Linked DNA regions of Homo sapiens. The protein of the gene in region 1 interacts with the protein of each later gene in a biochemical or structural test. Each region holds a gene or a part of one and is shown in the gene's direction. Other genes may lie near its edges.

Region 1 (7,028 bases):
TTTTGATGGAATATATATTCTCCAGTAGGTTCCTGAGAAAGGGTGCACAAAGGTTAAATTTTTGGAGACTTAGCCTCATGACTGTCTAAATTCTACTGGTGATCATATCCCCAAAAGACCAAATCCCTAATGCCATAATCCCAAATGTTGAAATACTGAAAGATCAAAATCTCTAAAAATCAGAATCCCTAAATTCTAAAAATCTCACACATCTGAAATCCTGAAAATCAGAATCATGAAAGATTAAAATCCCAAATGTTGAAATGCTGAAAGCCAACACCTGGGGTAGAAATTAGTGCACATTCGGTTGTATGAAAGATAGTTGCATCATTTTACTTGCATCATATTAGGTGGAACCGATTGCCTTTTTATTGTATTTATTTGGAAATTAAGTATGGTTTAAGGAGATGGTTTATGGGTGCCAAATTGACGAGGGGTGGATTCATGGATTTAATTTTAGGTGTCAACTTGACTGGATTAAGAAATACCTAGAAACTTGTTAAAGCATTATTTTGGGTTTGTCTGTGAGGAGATTAGTATGTGAGTCTGAGTGGACTAGGTGGGGAAGATCTGCCCTCAATAGCGGTGGCCACCATTAAATCTGCTGGGGGCCCAGAGAAAACAAATTGTTGCCTTTCTGAGAGCTGGAACGGACTTTTCTTCTGCTGAATTGAACATCAGAACTCCAGGCTTGTTGGCATTTGGACTCTAGGACATACACCAGCAGCCCCCTGGGTCCTGGGCTTTCAGCCTCAGACTGAGACCTGGTTTGGCTTGGTTCTGAGGTCTTTGGACTGAGCCAAGCTACCAGCATGCCAGGGTCTCCAGCTTGAAAATGACCTGTCCTGGAACTTATCAGCCACTATAATCGCATGAGCCAATTCCCCTAATAAATCGTCTCTCATATATCTATGTATATATATATCTTATTGGTTATGTCTCTCAAGAATGCTGTCTGTCGAGAATTATGTCTGTCGAGAATGCTGACTAATACGGATTTGGTATTGAGAAAGCCAAATATCATTCCTTCTTACTGTATTCCTTACAGCACAGTGGAAGAGACCTGTGAAATTGTTCCCTTGCAAAAAGGCTGTGATAAATTAAGTATACCAGGCTACTTAATGCTGAAAGAGAAAAGTTTAAAAGCTAATTATTATTGGTGTTGTGAAGACAGAAAATCACTTAATTGCAATGGCCAAGCAATAACCAGATTTCTAAATGGTCAGCATATACTTACAAAATATTTAGACCACAACCGCTCTAGTCTAAACACAAGTGAATGTTTTGAAGATCATAGAAGTGAATATGCAGGTGAAAAATATAAGAAAGCTCCCCTGCCAAATTATTCAATCAGGTATGACTTCTGCCCTTTCACACATAGTGCCAATTTGCTATGCTATGTATTTTATCTTTGCATCATTTCTAATACTGCAGGTATAAATTCTGTAAAGGCTTTTAGAGAATTCTAATTCATTTTATGCACTTTTTTTTTGCATATTTGACTCCATGAAAGTGCATTATCACAATGTGACGTAATGTGTAAGCATTGTGCATGTACATAAAAATGTTGAAACTTGCTCAGTAAATGAAGAGATGTCCGTTTTGTTCATCTGTATTTGTGAAAGATAAAATTTCTCAAGATCTTGGCTCTTTGGGTGACTCTATTGCAGTTTTTGTGCAAACGGTAGTGACCCATTGCAGTTTTTGATCGATCTTGTCAGAAGATTCAGGTTGTCTGGTATTTCAGATGACCGCAGTTATGAATCTGGGTGCACCTGATTACCAACCATAGTGATACGTGTTTATCCATTTTGCTTTTTAATCTATTTCTTCATGAATACATTTTCTCTGTTCCTATTATACCCATGCAATGGTTGTTAGTATACCTGAGTATTTATGCTTGCAAAAATATGTTATTAGTGCCTATTTTATTGTGTAAAGGGGCCTATGAACTGTTCCGTTGTGTTTTTATGTTTCTCAAATAAATCTTTTAAAAATGGAAATAAGTGTCTTTTAGAGAACTTTTTACAAATTATTTTTCCAGAATTCAATTTTTTGGATTTTGTTCTTTTGGGATTGTGATTTTTGGAATTTTAGATTTTAGGGATTTTGATCTTTTGGGATTTCAACATTTGGGATTATGGCATTTGGGATTGTGTCTTTTGGGATTATGTCCTAAACCCAAATTCTGTCACCACCGACTGTCTAGTGATAACATTTAAAATGGAAAGATAAAATGACTTGATTTTTTTTTTCCCTTTATTTTTAACTGCATTTAAAAAAATAGAGGCTGGGCATGGTGGCTCACACCTATAATCCTAGCACTTTGGGAAGTTGAGGCTGGTGGATTGCTTGAACTGAGGAGTTTGAGACCATCCTGGTCAATATGGTAAAACATCATTTCTACAGAAAAATACAAAAAAATTATCTGGGTGTGGTGGGGCCTGCCTGTAGTCCCAGCTACTTGGGAGGCTGAGATGGGAGGATCACCTGATCACCTGAGCCTGGGGAGGTTAACGCTGCAGTGAGCTCTGATTGTGACACGGCACTCCACCCTGGGTGATAGAGTGACACCCTGTCTCAAAAAAAAAAAAAAAAAAAAAAAAATTAAAAAACAGGAAAAAAAATTTAAAACACAGAGAAACCAAAAAAACTAGAAACCACATGCACATGAACCAGAATTTCAAAGGTATAAGAGGTTATGGATGGGGAAATGTATCTATGACATGAGAGAGTCTTTTGGGATGATGGAACTGTTCTGTATCTGACTATATAATGCTGGTTACACCAATTTCTATATGTTTTAATATCCATATAAATGATACTAAAAGAAAAATTTTAGTCTGTGTGTATGATAGGTTAAAAGGTGAAAAATTAAAAGAATTTAAAAATACGAAAAGGTATACAGCAAAAAAGTCTCCTTCCCCTCTTCCTTTAGTCTTCTAGCTTTCTCTTCTGGAAGAAACCACTGTTACCAATTTCTTATGTATTCTCCTATGTAATCACTCTTAAACATCTGAACATTTGGGATGAATCTGGCAAAAGAGAAAATAACTTATATTTGCTTAGCTATTTTCTGAGGATGCTAGATGACTACTCTTATAATATGTCTAAATATATTATTATTTTTATTTTGTTGAGGCAGAGTCTCAATCATCACCCCAGACTGGAGTGCAGTGGTGCAATCTGGGCTCACTGCAACCTCTGCCTCCCAGGTTCAAGTGATTCTCCTGCTTCACCTCCCAAGTAGCTGGGATTACAGGCATGTGCCACCACTGCACCCAGCTAATTTTTGTATTTGTTTGTTTGTTTGAGACAGAGTTTTGCTCTTGTTGCCCAAGCTGGAGTGCAGTGGTGTGATCTCGGCTCACTGCAACCTCCGCCTCCTGGGTTCAAGCGATTCTCCTGCCTCAGCCTCCCGAGTAGCTGGGATTACAGCTGTGTACCAGCACGCCTCGCCAATTTTTTGTATTTTTAGTAGAAACGGGGTTTCACCATGTTAGCCGGGCTGGTCTCGAACTCCTGATCTCAGGTGATCTGCCCGCCTCGGCCTCCCAAAGTGCTGGGATTACAGGCATGAGCCACCGCTCCCGGCCATTAATTTTTGTATTTTTTAGTAGAGATGGGGTTTTGCCATGTTGGCCAGATTGGTTTCGAACTCCTGACCTCAAGTGATCTACTCGCCTCGGCCTCCCAAAGTGCTGGGATTACAGGCATGAGCCACTGCACCGGGCCAGAATATGTGTAAATATATTATTAATCATACTTAGTACTAATTTATTAAATTACTTCTTTTACAGTTGGCAAACATGAATTGACTGGGCATAAAGTAGCTGTGAAGATACTCAATCGACAGAAGATTCGGAGCCTTGATGTGGTAGGAAAAATCCGCAGAGAAATTCAGAACCTCAAGCTTTTCAGGCATCCTCATATAATTAAACTGTAAGCTCTGTTTATATTAAATATAGTCCAGTCATCTTTTCATCTTTTTTGTTAACCTACTTAATGTGACAAGTGAGAAAAATGACTGACACTTCTTTTTGTTTCCTAAGGGTTTTGAAAAGTTTCTTCCTAGGCTGTGTGCGGTGGCTCACACCTGTAATTCCAGTACTTTGGGAGGCTGAGGCAGGCGGATCACCTGAGGTCAGGAGTTCGAGACCAGCCTGGCCAACATGGTGAAACCCTGTCTCCAGTAAAAATACAAAAATTAGCTGGGCATGGTGGTGGGCGCCTGTAATACCAGCTACTCGGGAGGCTAAGGCAGGAGAATGGCTTGAACCTGGGAGGCGGAGGTTGCAGTGAGCTGAGATCGTGCCATTGCACTCCAGCTTGGGCAACAAAAGCGAAACTCTGTCCCAAAAAAAAATAAAAGTTTCTTCCCATTCATGTATTTTTCTAACCCCATTGATGGTCATTTAAGCCTGTGTTCATGTTTTGCCCTTGTGCTTATCAGCTGTTATCTTCTCATTCTTTCCTGTCTCCTGGAAAGATGCTCTTCTGGTAATGTTTGGTGCCCCATTGCTGTAAAACCAACAGTGATCTGCTAGTAAAAACTCTTGACCTCCAAATGCCCACATGATGTCAGTTAGCCTCACTAGTGAGAATGCGGTAGTAGAAAGGGTTTTTCCCCATCCTGCTTATACCTGAACATATAGATAACAAAATTTCAGGAATCCAAGGTTTCAAAAGGGCAGTAATCTTACTGTTGTTTTACAGTTGCCAGTTATAGAGTCTACAAATAACTATTTCCTGCTCAGCTTCTGCTTTGTTATGCAGGCAATAACTTAAAGATGCTTAGGTTTTTCTCCTGAACTGGCTGACTCAAACTTGTTTCACTCTTACCTCTTCTCATTTGTTGAGTGCTAGGTTTTAAATACCATCCATATGCTGACCACCCCTAAATGTACATCTCTTGCTTTAAGATCTCTTCTTACACCAGACTTATTTGCTCACTGCTGACTTTACATTTCCATTTGGATGTTCGCAAGACATTTAAAACTCAACCCGGCCCAAAATGAACTCTTTATTACTCTCCCAAACCTGCTCTTCCCACAGTTTTCACCATCTTGGCTAACAGCCAATGACCCAGGGCTAAAACTTAGGAACCATTTTTAACTTCCCTGTTTCTTTCACTTTCTACCATGCATTTCATTTCTTCCTTCACAATCAAGCTAGGATTTGATTGCTTCTCAGTTCCTTTATTGCTGTCAACCTGGTCTCAGCCACCATCTGTCTCATGAAATCCTGAAGTAACCTCCTGTGGCTACCTTTACTGTTGACAGTTAATTCTTCACATTGCTGCCATAGTTTTACTTTTAATATGCCAGATCACATGACTGCTTAAAACGTACGATAGCTTTTCATCTTCCTTGGAGTAAAAGCCAAAGCCTTATCATGGCTTGTAAAATTCTGTGTCTTCTGGCCTGCAGTTAACACCTTTGACTCTACATCCTATTTCTCTCTAATATTCCTCGAACATGCCAAGCAGGCTTCTACTTGGGGACCTTTGCAGTTGCTATTCCCTCTCCCAGTTTCGCTTTCCTCCTAGATAATTACATAATTTGTTCCCATTCTTCTTTTAGGCTCAGCTCAAATGTTACTTTATTAGAGGCTTTCCTTTAGCACTCTGTATACAAAGATTCCCCTTCATTTGCTTTATTTTTCTTCATAGCATGTTCCACCACCTGAGATATTGCTTATTTATTTAGTGTCTGTTTCCTGGTTCCTGGAACATGAACTCCATGAGAGCAGAGAATTTTTGTTTCCTGCAGTTTTTCTAGCTCCTAGCCTAGTACCTGGTATACTATAGGTGCTTAGTAAATATTTATTGAATGAATGAATATATGTGTTTTAATATTTGTAGACAATGTTTTCTCTCACCAGGTACCAGGTCATCAGTACACCATCTGATATTTTCATGGTGATGGAATATGTCTCAGGAGGAGAGCTATTTGATTATATCTGTAAGAATGGAAGGGTAAGCTGTTCTGCTTTAATTCTGTATGTATTTTGTAACTCCCCTTTATCCTTTACTAGCATCAAAATGTCAGCAACCAATTTTAAGAGGTCTATTTAATAACCAGTTCCCTTAGTCATATATTTGTTTAGAATCATAAACTATGTAGAACTAGAAAGGATCTTAAAGATTATCTCCTTAGCCTGTTTATACAGATGTGGATACTGAGCCTCGCGGCTTATATGATTGCTCACAGTAACGTGATTTATTAATGACGGAATTGGCTTGAGCCCCCAGAACTCATAATCCTCAGACTTATGCTTCCAGGGTATACAAATACTTTGAATATGTATCTTAATGTAATTAATCGTTACAAAATATATTATTATTACTTAAAGATCTAGGCCTTGCTAGTCAATTCTAGCCACATTTAAATTGCATTCATTTTTTGGTTTCAGAAATCTGATGTACCTGGAGTAGTAAAAACAGGCTCCACGAAGGAGGTAGGAATTAGATATAAAGAATTTACAGCTGGAAGGAACTTTGTAGGACATTTTGAACACTACCTTAAGTTACAGATACAAAAACTCAACACTGCCCTCTGCCCATACTTTTTCTCATACCCAGGTTATGTGGTATGCAAAAGCCCCTTTGTGGGAGAGCTGTAGCTAGCCCTGAAAAGAGAGCTTTTCTCTCAATTTTAAGTTATTTACATTACTCATTCATTTGTTCTATATAGCATGTCTATTTACTTTTATCAAAATCAAACTTATTAACCAAGTTAATTTTGATTTTACTATTTCTTAACATGATTCATTTCTATTTCAGGTACTCCCCTTTACTCCTGCTTCTCCTTACCAAAAAAAAAAAAAAAAAAAAAATTCTGCCTGGAGAAATGGGAAACAGGCACAATTGATATATATTTTTCTTATCTTTTCTGTTGTTGTTTATTTCTTGGTTTTACCTTGTGGGTATTTCTTCAGTTTTACCAGTTGAATATTAAAATTTCAGCACCCGTATTTTCTATTTCAAAAGTTTCTTATTTTCTGAAATTTTCATTTTTTTAGTCTGC
Region 2 (7,028 bases), on another chromosome or scaffold:
AAAGAGCCTGGCTGGGAGACATTCATACAGTTTGTTACAGAGATGAGGAGAGCTAAAAAGGAATATGGAGGAGGGTATCAACTGATGAGATGGATTGGTTGGTGGGAAAACCTACTAATCAACAAACAATCTGGCACTGGAAATAGGCAGTAACATAAAGGAGCAAGTGTAGATTTAGTTTCTTGGGCAGTTTGATGGTGAAGGGGAGAAAGGAAATAGTGTGGTGGCTTAAGGCAAAAGCTGATTCAGGAAAGGGTTCCTTTTTATTGTTTCTATTTTTAGGACGAGGAGATTTTAGATTTGAGCATGTTTGTAGGACAAGGAAGAGAGCAAGTAGAGGAGAAATTGAAGACGAGAGAGTAGAGAAGCCAGAGCAGCACAGGCTCACTGTTAGGATGGGAAAAGGACACTGCTTACCCTGAGAAAATGGTAGCTGATATGGGAGAATCTCTACAGATTAAACAGTGCATGTGTGGCAAGGGTGGGAGGGGAATTGAGAAAATTCAAGCCTGATCAACTTGTCTTTGAAGTAGGAAATTAGGCCATTTACCAAAATCCAGTAGCTTAAGTGGATGAGGGAGTTGAAGAATTTGAGAAAGAATTGGAAACCACATGGAATAAAATGGGGGGCTGCAAAAGGACAAGAAAAAGGACTCCTGGGCAGAGTTCAGCTCTACTCAGGAAAGAAATGATACTTATAAAAATGAAAAGGTTTTCAACAGTTTCTCCCCATGAGCCCTTCAGATTTATGATCCAAAGTTGACAGAGGCATGATATGTTTCCTAACATATGGAGAGAAGAGGTTGAAGACAAAAGGATGTTGCCATTTCTACGATGAAATGGATATTCATGCCCTCCTACCAAATTTGGGGGCGAAATGTCATGAATTTGACACCCAACAGTAGAGCAGGTGAAAAGCCAGAACTTTGGCAGCATTTTCTCTGTACAAATCTTTGTATGTTCTGTTCCAAACTAACAGTTGCAGCAGTCTTTTAATTGAAGCACTAAAACAAGATTTTTGGGAACAGTGTGACTCAGATCACATTTATTTTTAGAGGCGGAATTCAAAAAATAATAATGATGATAATCATATAGTCAGGTAGAATAGGGGATGGGAACTTTAGTAAATTGGTGAAGGACACTGAATCCCATATTGGATTTTATTTATTATTTATTTTTAAATATCTTTTAAATTTTTGCATTTTCTGCTTAAATAGATTGAGTTTTAATGAGCTCTAACAGGCTATGGAGGCACCTTAGCATATAAGTGAAGTTGATTAAATCAAAAGCATGCTTGGGAAAGATGGTTTTGACTCCTGTAAGAAATAATGAATGAGGGCTGGGCGCGGTGGCTCACACCTAGAATCCCAGCACTTTGAGAAGCCCAGGTGGGTAGATCACAAGGTCAGGAGTTCAAGACCAGCCTGACCAACATGGTGAAACCCTGTCTCTACTAAAAACACAAAAATTAGCTGGGTATTGTGGTGCGTGCCTGTAATCCCAGCTACTTGGGAGGCTGAGGCAGGAGAATTGCTTGAATCCGGGAGGTGGAGGTTGCAATGAGCTGAGATCACACCACTGCACTCCAGTCTGGGCCACAGTGAGACTCTGTCTCAAAAAAAAAAAAAAAAGAAATAATGAATGAATGAATGGAGAAGAGCCTAGATATGAGTAAGATGAGAGGTTGTGTTTGTGAATGGAAGGAGTGAAATGAACATTTATAATGTCGAAGACTAATTTCTTACCTAATAGATATACTAACTCAGGTAATTATATTAATTATTTGTTGCTCTGTGTATCTAATCATGCAACCTGCTAGATAGGGCATGTGCCCACATTGGTTCTAGCAGAGTTATCCATAGGGTTCCTAATGAGCTTTCTAGCCTATTTGAGGATTAAACAGGGATGTTAAATGTTGGAAAGAAACTTTTTTTTGAGACAGAGTCTCCCTCTGTCATCCAGGCTGGAGTGCAGTGGCGCAATCTGGGCTCACTGCAACCTCTGCCTCCTGGGTTCAAACAATTCTCCTGCCTCAGCCTCTTGAGTAGCTGGGACTTTGCATGCATGCCACCAGGCCCGGCTAATTTTTGTATTTTTAGTAGAGACAAGGTTTCACCATGATGGCCAGGCTGGCTTCGTACTCCCGACCTCAAGTATCCTCCCGCCTTGGCCTCCCAAAGTGCTGGGATTACAGGCATGCGCCTGGCCAACTTTCTTGTGTCAAAGAGAACCTATAACAGATACTAGAAATAATGAATATATAGTCAGATTACTCAAGTGAGTTTATCTTCATTTTAATATTCCCTGAGTCAAAAAGTTCGGTTTTAGTGCAATGGAAAGGATAGTAATTGATGAGAGTTGTGTAGGTGACAAGTAGAAGAGCTAGGATTTGGACCCAGGCAGTCTGACACTAGTGCTGGTGTCCTTAACCACTAAGCAATATGCCACTGCTATACAGTAAAGCCCTTTGTAAATATCTGGAGTTTATTTCTTGTTTTTATAATACTATGTAATGATGATTTATGATACCCTACTCTAGGAATTATTGCTCAGTACCCTGTGTGTGGTTTTGTTTTTATTTTTTTGTAAAGAAGTGAATGAGAGGCCAGATGCGGTGGCTCATGCCTGTTATCCCAGCACTTTGGGAGGCCGACACAGGCAGATTATCAGAGGTCAGGAGTTCGACGCCAGCCTGGCCAATATGGTGAAACCCCGTCTCTAATAAAAATATAAAAATTAGCCAGGTGTGGTGGCGTACGCCTGTAATCCCAGCTACTCCGGAGGCGGAGGCAGGAGAATTGCTGGAACCTGGGAGGCAGAGGCTGCAGTGACCCGAGATTGTGCCACTGCACTCCAGCCTGGGCGACAAAAAATAAAAATAAAAATAAAAAAGTGAATTGAGAGTCCCTTGTTGTAGTCATAAGCTATTTGGTTACCTCATAGGCTAAGGACCCTTTTGCTGCACTCTCACAAGGTACCTAAAGGAATGTAATCAATGTAAACAATGAATGGATTTGGAAGTGCTCTGGATCTGAAAGCCCTAAATGATCAATTATCTCAGTAGTCTGGTGATAGAAACCTAGTTTAGTGTGGTCCCAAGGTCTGCAGTCTCGCTCCTACCCCAAGCACCCTACTCTCCAACTGTACATTACTCCCTAACAGTTGCCTCTGCCTTTGCTTATCCTGTTCCCTCAATTGAGGCAACTTCTCTGCCTGGTGATAACTAACTTACCCTTCAGGACCAGCTCAGATGTCATTCTGTGAGAGGACGAAGCTAAGCAAGAAAAGGAAGAGAGAAAGGCCCAGAAAGACCTTGGGTTCTCACAGTTGTTAATGAGTGGGGAAATGCACAATAACAATAAAGACAGAAGTGGGGCGATGAGCAGAGCCATATGAAGAATATGGCAGTCTCTAAATATAAGAGAAAAATGGCCATACATTTTGTCTGTTCTCTAGAAGTTACAGGTAAAGCACCACTAAAAAATAGAAAGCCAAGTGGGTTGGGAATCAAGAAAACTGCATTCAGCTCCCATGTGTGAGGCCTTGGGTCAGCCACATAACTCCTCCTGGCTTAAGGGAGTTAGACTTGATTTATAAAATCTCGTGTAACTCAAACCTTCCTTCGTGCTCGCAGCATGAAGCTATTTATTGATTTCTAAACAAGAATAGAACAAAAATTATTTAATGAAGAGAATGATCAGAGCTTTGGTTTGCTTCTTTCAATGTGGGCTTGTTTTCAAATTTCAATTAAATCAAAACCACCTGCAAAAGAACAGATCTACTGAATCAACCATGTCTTCCTACACAGTGTACTGAATTTTTCAGTACAGCAACAAACTTTTAGATCTGACATTGTTGTTACACTCAGCTAAGCCTAAATCATAGCCAGAGGTGCAGATTCAGAGTCTAAGCTAGGTAAGGACTTATGCCCAGTAACTAGCAATTATTTAACTGGGAGTAAGGAGTAAGCAGATCTGATTACCAGAGAATTTAAGTATTTTGTCAAAAACTATTTTATAAATTCTTTCCAGTCAAGTCAGTTCACAATCCAGTAAGCTGTGATCAGAGTCATGGCATTGGTCATAAACGTTCTTAGCATGCAAGGTAAAACAAATGCTAATGATGCCCCTACACTCTGCTTCCCGCAGGAGATGCTGAACATAAGCCATATATCTGTGGGGATGCAGATTCTGCCTCCACTGTTCTGGATGGGACCGAAGACTACCTCATTCTGGCCTGTGATGGCTTCTATGACACCGTGAACCCTGATGAGGCAGTGAAAGTTGTGTCCGACCACCTGAAAGAGAATAATGGAGACAGCAGCATGGTTGCCCACAAATTAGTGGCATCAGCTCGTGATGCTGGGTCAAGTGATAACATCACGGTTATTGTGGTATTCCTGAGGGACATGAACAAAGCTGTAAATGTTAGTGAGGAATCAGATTGGACAGAGAACTCTTTTCAAGGAGGGCAAGAAGATGGTGGGGATGATAAGGAGAATCATGGAGAGTGCAAACGCCCTTGGCCTCAGCACCAGTGCTCAGCACCAGCCGACCTAGGCTATGATGGGCGTGTGGATTCATTCACTGATAGAACTAGCCTGAGCCCAGGGTCCCAAATCAACGTGCTGGAAGACCCAGGCTACCTAGATCTCACACAAATAGAAGCAAGCAAACCTCACAGTGCCCAGTTTTTGCTACCAGTTGAGATGTTTGGTCCTGGTGCACCAAAGAAAGCAAATCTTATTAATGAGTTAATGATGGAGAAAAAATCAGTTCAGTCATCATTGCCTGAATGGAGTGGTGCTGGAGAGTTTCCCACTGCTTTCAATTTGGGTTCAACAGGGGAGCAGATATACAGAATGCAGAGCTTGTCTCCTGTCTGTTCAGGGTTGGAAAATGAACAGTTCAAATCCCCGGGAAACAGAGTTTCTAGATTGTCTCATTTACGCCACCACTACTCAAAGAAGTGGCACAGATTCAGGTTTAATCCAAAGTTTTATTCATTTCTCTCTGCTCAAGAGCCTTCCCACAAAATAGGCACTAGCCTGTCCTCACTTACTGGAAGTGGGAAGAGAAATAGGATAAGAAGTTCTCTGCCATGGAGGCAAAATAGTTGGAAAGGGTACAGTGAAAACATGAGGAAGCTCAGAAAGACTCATGATATTCCATGCCCAGATCTTCCTTGGAGCTATAAAATAGAATAATTTTTCTTTCAAGTAGGTTAGCTAGCTCTCCCCCAATAAAAATACCACTATCAGAGTAGAAACAAGGTAGACATTTCTAAAACATATGTGCTTCATTATGAATCCATGGATGGCTCAATTCTTAAATGTAAATAGATCTCTAGGAAACTCAAAGTACAGTGTTTTCAATCTAAAAAGAAGTATTGGCAGTTTCACTTGCAAAATTACACAGCTGGTCCCTGTGATGTGTCTCGACACCAATACACAACCCCCTTCCCACCATCCTTCATGTCACTAGATACACAACCCCCTTCCCACCATCCCTTCAGTCACTAGTGGAAGCTTTCAAGTTAGTTATTTCAGTCAGGATATACAGTGTTGAAATCTCAATGCAGTTGAAATCTGGTCTGATGTGCCTAATTTATCTGTGGAAAATTTAATGCTGAATTACATTTGGTTGGGAAATGTCCCTCAAAATCCTGGGCACTATGAAGGAACCCCCTGCCCCCTCACCTTTTTGGGTAGGTAAAAGACTAAAAGCCATATGGATTTTAACTGATAACAATGAAAGTGGTAAATCAGTGTAAAAGTGTCATATTCTCAGACTTGTGAGGCGGTTTATAGTCAGAAAGATTTACGGATTTTTTTCCTGTAACATAAAAGATTGTGAACTTTTTTTAATTAAAAAATATTTCCTAGGGCTGTAGTTATTTGGGAGTTTCATAACCTGTTATGGTGCTTTTGGTGGAAATTTTTATTATTTAGCATTTTAGGAGACCGCTGTCAACTGGTTTTAATCTATGATGCTAATGTGTTTTCCACTGTACCCTCATCTCAGGAATAAAACTGCTTTAACGGAGATGATGTCAGGTACAAATACACTATAGAGTCAAAATACCATTTACAAAGAAAATCAAAAGCATTTCTATATTTTGTCTTTTTTTAGTTCAGACAGCAAAGGCATGTACTACTATAAAATACAAAGTGATTTTAGAGAATGAAAAATGCTACTTTTATCTTCTCTAAAATTATTTCCCCCAAGGTAGTGAAGTAATTGGAATGAAGGAGGCTGAAAGTATTGTCTAAAGTGAGCCCAGAGGCCACTGAGAATGCAGATTACTGACAGCCAGGTCTGTTTAGTTGTAATTGGAAGACACATGAGTGTCCTGCTTACATGTAGCTTCAGACTGCAGAGACAGGACGTGTGCTTTTCATTTCAATATTTAGTTATATTTGATATTTTGAAACTGTCTGCTTTTTGCTATTTCTGCAGTTTCAAGTTAGTTAGAAGCATGTTGTCAACTAAAGACAACAAACTATCAGATTCATTCATTCAGTGAAGCAGCCTCTGATTCTCTAAGAGTCACGAATGTCTTAGTGTTACCCTCCCCTAGTCAACAGCAGACCAGCCTGGCCAATGCCTATGGGTGGCCCCTCTGGAGTGCTCACTAACAAGGGTGAGTGCTCTCGCTAAGAAGTGTCCCCCGCCTAATCATGTGTTTATAGGATAGTACACGTTCCCCAGGCCCATAACAGAGGACTAAAATCTCTGAATTTTAAAGACACAGATGACTGGCATATTTTGGATACCAGTATAGCTATATCAAATAGACAAAAACAGCTTCACTTTAGCAATGATCAGATTGTTAATCTACAGATTTTATTTTTTAAAATTTGGATGTAAGTAGAGACTTTCAGTATTTGTTTTCTCTTGATTTTGAAGTCATTTCTTCTTCTCACGTCTGTGACAAATGGTTGAAAAGGAGTCAACATGGCCCCAACTATAGTGCCGGAACCTTTTCATCATTCTGAGGCTTTGCCCCACACATGGTCCTCACTCATA
Region 3 (7,028 bases), about 91 Mb from region 1:
GGAAAAGTAAAGTGGGAATCATGAAAGACTCACTTGCCATGCCAAAGCAATTTCAACTTACTTGGTAATTTGTGGGAATTATGGGAGTAGTTTAGAACAGTGGCATGGTGATATTTGAGCCAGTGTGTTAGCCAGAAGAGAAAATTTATCATAATAGTATCTATAGCTTATATTTATTTGAGACCTATTTATATTTGTTCCTTTAAAAAGTGTGAGGGCTTTGTAAAGTAAAAATAGAGGATTTTAAATGTGTATACTGACAACTTCAAAAATTGAATTAAGTTGAAATTAATGGCTTTGTATTCTCCTTTTTTTTTCTTTCTTTCTTGAGACAGGGTCTCACGCTATTGCACAGGCTGGAGTGTGGTGGTGCGATCACAGCTCACTGCAGCCTCAACTTCCTGGGCTCAGGTGATTCTTCCGCCTCAGCCTCTCAGGTAGCTGGGATTACAGGTGCGCGCCACCATGCCCAGCTAATTTTCTGTATTTTTTTGTAGAGACAAGGGTTTCGCCATGTTGCCCAGGCTGGTCTTGAACTCCTGGGCTCAAGTGATCAGCCTGCTTCCACCTCCCCAAATGCTGGGATTACATGTGTAAGCCACCATGCCCAGCCCTATTCTCCATAGTTTTGGCACTGAAATTACTGGTTTAATTTGAAGTATAGCATAAATATAGAAATGCTAATTTCTAGTCCTGCCCCCCTCACCTCCCCTGCTTTTAACATAATGGCTAGTCATGTTTAGAATGGATTCAAAAGTGAAAATGAACTGCATGGCTGAACTTGTTGCCCTTTCTTTTCCTTTTAGTAAGGATGAGTCTCTCTCTTCCTGCCCTTTCTGGCCTATCCTGAGTACCCAACCCTCTAGGGAATGGAAGGGGAAAATAGGCTTTTACAAACATGGGAGCTGGTGGGGTGGGGTGCTGGCTAGAGGAACAACAGTTAAAGTTCAGAGATATGACTTACTTTTTTATTTTATTTCTTTTTATTTTTTATTATTTTTATTTTTTTGAGACGGAGTCTTGCTCTTGTTGCCCAGGCTGGAGTGCAGTGGTGTCATCTCGGCTCAGTGCACCCTCTGCCTCCTGGGTTCAAGTAATTCTCCAGCCTCAGCCTCCCAAGTAGCTGGGACTACAGGTGCCCACGACACCACCTGGCTAGTTTTTGTATTTTTAGTAGGTACAGGGTTTTACCATCTTGGCCAGGCTGGTCTTGAACTCCTGGTCTCAAGTGATCCACCCATCTCGGCCTCTCAGAGTGCTGGAATTACAAGCGTGAGCCACTGTGCCCGGCCCCAGAGATATGATTTAAATCAGGAATGGTTAAGTGTGTGGTGTGACGACTATAGCTTTGCTCCATTTTACCACTACTCCTTTCCTCTCCTTGCAAGCCAGTGGATATTGTGCTTTGTCTTTTCTTGATTGGACACAGCTACAGAATCCTTGTGTACATAGTACTTCAGGCAGTACTTCTCTAACAAGGTAAAAATGCTCTGCATGGAGCCTGGGTTAGAGAATATTCTTGGGATATGTGAGTTTCAGAACTGACTCTTTGCTTGAGGTTTCTGAACCATAGCATTTGTTTAAAGAGGAAACCAGAAAACCCTTAAATTCACCTTTCTCTCTGGTTAAGATTATTCATCTCATCTTCCTCCCTTGAATAGTCACTCATCTGTTAAAGAACTAAGAGTGAGGCCAGGCATGGTGGCTCACGCCTGTAATCCCAGCACTTTGGGAGGCCAGGGCCAGTGGATTGCTTGAGCCCAGGAGCTCAAGACCACCCTAGGAAACATGGCAAAACTCTGTCTCTACAAAAAAAAAAAAATACAAAAAATTAGCCAGGCATGGTGGCACGCGCTTATAGTCCCAGCTACTCAGGAGGCTGAGGTAGCAGGATCACCTGAGCCTAGGAGGCTGAGGCTGCAGTGAACCATGATTGTACCACTGCACTCCAGCCAGGATTACAGTGTGAGACCCTGTCTCAAAAAAAAAAAAAACAAAAAAACGAGTAAAACCTAAACTATTACTCATACAGTAAAAGAAGTAGGTTTCTGATCATTAAAAATAGCTTACTTAGCTGTGTCAGTAAAGGACATGTCCAATAACTGATTTTTTCCATTACAGGAGACTTGTATGGCGCTATTGGCTCTCCCGTACGGTTAGCAAGGACTGTGGTAGTTGGCAAACGACAAGACATGGTCCAGAGGCTACTTTATTTTCTTACTTATTTTATAAGATGCTCTGAACTTCAAGAAACGCATCTTTTAGAAAATGGAGAAGATGAAGCCATCGTTATGCCAGGCACAGTAATTACTACCACTTTAGAGAAAGGTGAAATAGAAGAATCAGAGTATGTCCTTGTCACAATGCATAGAAACAAAAGCAGTTTGCTCTTTAAAGAGTCAGAAGAAATTAGAACTCCCAATTGTAACTGTAAATATTGCAGTCATCCACTCCTTGGGCAAAATGTAGAGAACATTTCACAACAAGAGAGAGAAGATATTCAAAACAGCTCTAAGGAGCTGCTAGGAATTTCAGATGAGTGCCAGATGATTTCTCCTTCTGACTGCCAAGAAGAAAATGCTGTTGATGTTAAACAGTACAGAGATAAATTAAGAACTTGCTTTGACGCCAAGTTAGAGACAGTTGTTTGCACAGGATCTGTTCCAGTAGACAAATGTGCATTGTCAGAGTCAGGCTTAGAGTCAACAGAGGAAACATGGCAGAGTGAGAAGTTGCTGGATTCAGACAGTCACACAGGCAAAGCAATGAGATCCACAGGAATGGTTGTGGAAAAAAAACCTCCAGATAAGATTGTGCCTGCTTCATTTTCTTGTGAGGCTGCCCAGACAAAGGTTACTTTCCTGATTGGGGATTCTATGTCACCTGATTCAGATACTGAGCTTCGAAGTCAGGCAGTGGTGGATCAGATTACCAGACATCACACCAAACCATTGAAGGAAGAAAGAGGGGCTATTGATCAGCATCAAGAAACTAAACAAACAACCAAGGACCAATCTGGAGAGTCTGATACACAGAACATGGTTTCTGAAGAGCCCTGTGAACTTCCCTGTTGGAATCATTCAGACCCAGAAAGCATGAGCTTATTCGACGAATATTTTAATGATGATTCAATCGAAACCAGGACTATTGATGATGTTCCATTTAAAACAAGTACAGATAGTAAAGACCATTGCTGTATGTTAGAGTTTTCAAAAATATTGTGTACAAAAAATAACAAGCAGAACAATGAATTTTGTAAATGTATAGAAACAGTTCCCCAAGATTCATGTAAAACCTGCTTTCCTCAGCAGGACCAAAGAGATACACTCTCCATTCTTGTCCCCCATGGGGATAAAGAGAGTTCAGATAAAAAAATTGCTGTAGGAACTGAATGGGACATTCCAAGAAATGAAAGTTCAGACAGTGCCCTTGGGGATAGTGAAAGTGAAGATACAGGTCATGATATGACTAGACAAGTTAGCAGTTATTATGGAGGAGAGCAAGAAGATTGGGCAGAAGAGGATGAGATACCTTTTCCTGGGTAAGTAGGAAGTTTTCACCTATAATGGGCCCTATATAAATATGTACCATTCTCTTTTTTAGCTGTTCTCTGAAGGTTAGTATAAAAGAGATCATTGTTCTGGATAGCTCTCTTGTTTTCATATTCTCTTAACTCATAAGAAGGAGTAAAGGCTAAGCTCCAGAAACACCCTGGAAAGGTTTTATGAAGACCTCAAATAAAAGTTAAAGGATCTGGTTGATAAGTATAAGATTTCTTACTGCTTAGAAGGTTTCAAGCCATTTAGGAGTGACTTATGCCCCCCAAAGGACATATGCTGAGCCTGGCAGTTAGGGAGCACTAATCCCTGAGATGTTAGAATAGCTGTTAGAAATAGATTTGGCCAAGACTAAGAGGAAAACAGAGAATGTATACTTTGGGTCAAGTATGCAAGGAGAATATTCATGCTTGAGAAACATTACATACCTAGCTTTGGACTTGTGAGGCATTTAATTGTTTTGTTTTAGATGATTGTTTTCATAATCTGATTGTATTAAGAATGTGCTACAAACACAAGGTACAATTCTCTTAAAGTCTCTTAGGAAAGATTGATCCTCACTTCATTACTCAGTTGCTCATCAGACCTTCTTCTCTGAATAAGAAGGAGTATTTTATTTTCTGATAGAGCACTTGAGCCAGTTTTTAAATAACGATGATTTTACTCTTGATTTTACTATTATTACCATTTTACTCTTAATTTTTACGATTGTTACCATTATATAAGGATGATTTTACACTTGATTTTAATACAGACTAGTGTAAAATATGGACAAGTAGAATTCACTTTTTTTTTTTTTTACTGGTTAAATATATTTATTACTAAATAAATGTCTTTTGGGGGCATTTTTCTTCCAGGTCAAAGTTAATCGAAGTGAGTGCTGTTCAGCCCAACATTGCCAACTTCGGGAGGTCCTTGCTGGGTGGCTACTGCTCATCTTATGTGCCTGACTTTGTTCTTCAAGGAATTGGGAGTGATGAGAGGTTCCGTCAGTGTCTGATGTCAGATTTATCTCATGCTGTGCAGGTGAGTGACCTTCACTGTTTTTGAGTTTATTTAGAAGAAACTCTGTTAAGCAGCAGAACCCAAAATTGCCTTATATTTTTGGTCATACTTTTTACAACACAATCATTGTTCTCTGAATCCATCATTTTATATTCAGTGCCCGTATCTTTGTATCTGTCACTGTGAAAGCAAATAAAGTTCCAGAAATCTATCCACATGGATATCTGAAATACAGAAAGTACTTTATGTATTCATGGATGTCCATCAACTAGGTTATTTATAGTATCAAAAATTTGCAAGTGCTTAAGTTTGAATGGAATTATTTTCTTAATTTCCTTTTCAGATTACTCATTGCTTACATATAGAAGTGGGGTTGGCTTTTGTGTATTGATCTTATATCCTTTGGTCTTTCTGAAACTCTTATTAGTCTATTCATTTTTCTGTATAGGTTCCCTAAGGTTTTCTACACACAGGCTCATGTTATCAGTGAACAGATAGTTTTAAATCTTTCTTAACAATCTGGATGCCTTTTGTCCCCGCTGCCCCCAACTTTTTTTTTTTTTTTTGACTCATTGTACTGGCTAGAATTTTCAATACAATGTTGCATGGAAGTGGTGACCATGGACATCGTTGCCTTATTCCTGATCTTAGGGGAAAGACATTGCATCTTTCATGATTAAGTATGTTGTTAGTTGTAAGGTTTTTGTGATGCCCTTTATTAGATGGAAGAAGTTCCCTTTTTATTTTTATTTTGTTTAACCGAATACTTCTTTTAGAGACAGGCAGTTCTCTTTTATTCCTAGTTTTGAGACGGTTTGGTTTTTTTTGTCCATCCCTTAATCATGAATGAGTGTGGGATTTTGTCATATGCTTTTTCTCAATGTCTATTGAGATTGTATTGTCGTGTCATTTTTCATCTTTAAACTATTAATGTCATGGATTTCATTAATTAATTTTTAGATGTTAAACCAACCATTGTATTCCTAGGAAGCAATTCCCACTCTGTCATGGTATATAATTTTTTTTATGTGTTGCTGGATTTGATTTACCAATATTTTATTATGGACATTGGAGTCTATATTCATGAGAAATATTGCTTTTTAGTTTTCTTGTGATGTCTTTGTCTAGCTCTGATATCAGGATAATATTGGCACATCCTCTATTTTCTGGAAGAGTTTCCAGAAGATTAGTACTACTTTTTTTCTCTAAACGTTTGGTAGAACTCACTAGTGAAACCATCTGCATCCAGGCTTTTAAGAATAAGAATATTTTAAATTGCTAATTTAATTTCTTCACCTTTTATACATTTAGATTTTCTATTTGTTTCTGAGTCCATTTTGGTAATTTTTGTCTTTTAGGAATTTATTAGTTGCATTTAAGTGGCCTAATTTACTAGAATCAAGTTGTTTATATTATACACTTACAATCCTTTTAGTTTTTATAAGGTTGCTAGTGATGTCCCCTCTTTTGTTCCTGAATTTTGTAATGTGTGTTTTTGTTTGTTTGTTTTTCAAATGGTGAGGGCTTCTCCAAAGAGAAGTTCATTCGTGGTTTCACTTAAATTGTATATATTTTTTGCCCATATACATCAAGGATTAGCAAGCTATGGACAGTGGGCCAAATTGTCCTGCTTTTTATAGATGAAGTTTTATTAGAACACAACCACAGTCATTCATTTATATGCTTCTGGCTATGTTCATGCCTAACAGCAGAGTTGAGTTATTGAGACAGAGACTTTTCAGCCCCCAAACCTAAAATATTTCCTGTTTGTTCTTATTTTATTTTATTTCATTTTTCTTGAGACAGAGTCTAGCTCTGTTACCCAGGCTGGAGTACAGTGGTGCCATCTCAGCTTACAGTAACTTCTGCCTCCCAGGTTCAAGTGATTCTCTTGCCTCAGCCTCTGGAGTAGCTGGGATTACAGGTGCCCACCACCACACCTGCCTAATTTTTGTATTTTTAGTAGAGATGAGGTTTCACCATGTTGGCCAGGTTGGTCTGGAACTCCGACCTCAGGTGATCCACCCACCTCAGCCTCCCAAAGTGCTGGGATTATAGGCGTGAGCCACCGCACCTGGCCAAATCTGACAAATTTCGATCTGTTGTATTTTCAGTTTCATTCATTTCAAAATGTTTTTACATTTTGCTTGTAATTTCTTTGACTTATGAGTTATTTAGAAGTATGCTGTTTAATTTACAAATATTTATGGAATTCTCAAAAGTTGTTTTGCTGTTGGTTTCTAATTTAATTCCATTATGGTTGGAGAACCTACTTTGTTCACCTCTTGTAAATTTATTGAGACTGTTTTATGGCACTTGAAAAGAATATATATTCTGCTTTTGTTGAAATGTTCTATAGCTATCAGGTCAAGTTAGATAACCTTTAGATAATAGTCTTAATTAAGTCTTTTATGTCCGTGCTGATTTTCAGTTTGTTTCTGCCATCAATTATTGAGAATGAAGTAT

What was found.
Region 2: of the proteins of PRKAA1 (region 1) and PPM1E, one has a biochemical effect on the other in vitro, tested with the Homo sapiens proteins (one study listed by BioGRID).
Region 3: the proteins of PRKAA1 (region 1) and FNIP1 form a complex in vitro, tested with the Homo sapiens proteins (one study listed by BioGRID).

Annotation. Positions count from the first base shown.
Region 1 is NC_000005.10:40,774,359-40,781,386, reverse strand, and holds part of PRKAA1 (5'-AMP-activated protein kinase catalytic subunit alpha-1), read left to right. Parts: exon of another isoform or gene 1-32; intron 33-1,048; exon of another isoform or gene 1,049-1,305; coding exon of another isoform or gene 1,306-1,354; intron 1,355-3,800; coding exon 3,801-3,942; intron 3,943-5,883; coding exon 5,884-5,977; intron 5,978-6,414; coding exon of another isoform or gene 6,415-6,459; intron 6,460-7,028. UniProt on the Homo sapiens protein: Catalytic subunit of AMP-activated protein kinase (AMPK), an energy sensor protein kinase that plays a key role in regulating cellular energy metabolism.
Region 2 is NC_000017.11:58,975,826-58,982,853, forward strand, and holds part of PPM1E (protein phosphatase 1E), read left to right. Parts: intron 1-4,148; coding exon 4,149-5,206; 3' UTR 5,207-7,028. UniProt on the Homo sapiens protein: Protein phosphatase that inactivates multifunctional CaM kinases such as CAMK4 and CAMK2. Dephosphorylates and inactivates PAK. May play a role in the inhibition of actin fiber stress breakdown and in morphological changes driven by TNK2/CDC42.
Region 3 is NC_000005.10:131,668,018-131,675,045, reverse strand, and holds part of FNIP1 (folliculin-interacting protein 1), read left to right. Parts: intron 1-2,121; coding exon 2,122-3,541; intron 3,542-4,414; coding exon 4,415-4,583; intron 4,584-7,028. UniProt on the Homo sapiens protein: Binding partner of the GTPase-activating protein FLCN: involved in the cellular response to amino acid availability by regulating the non-canonical mTORC1 signaling cascade controlling the MiT/TFE factors TFEB and TFE3.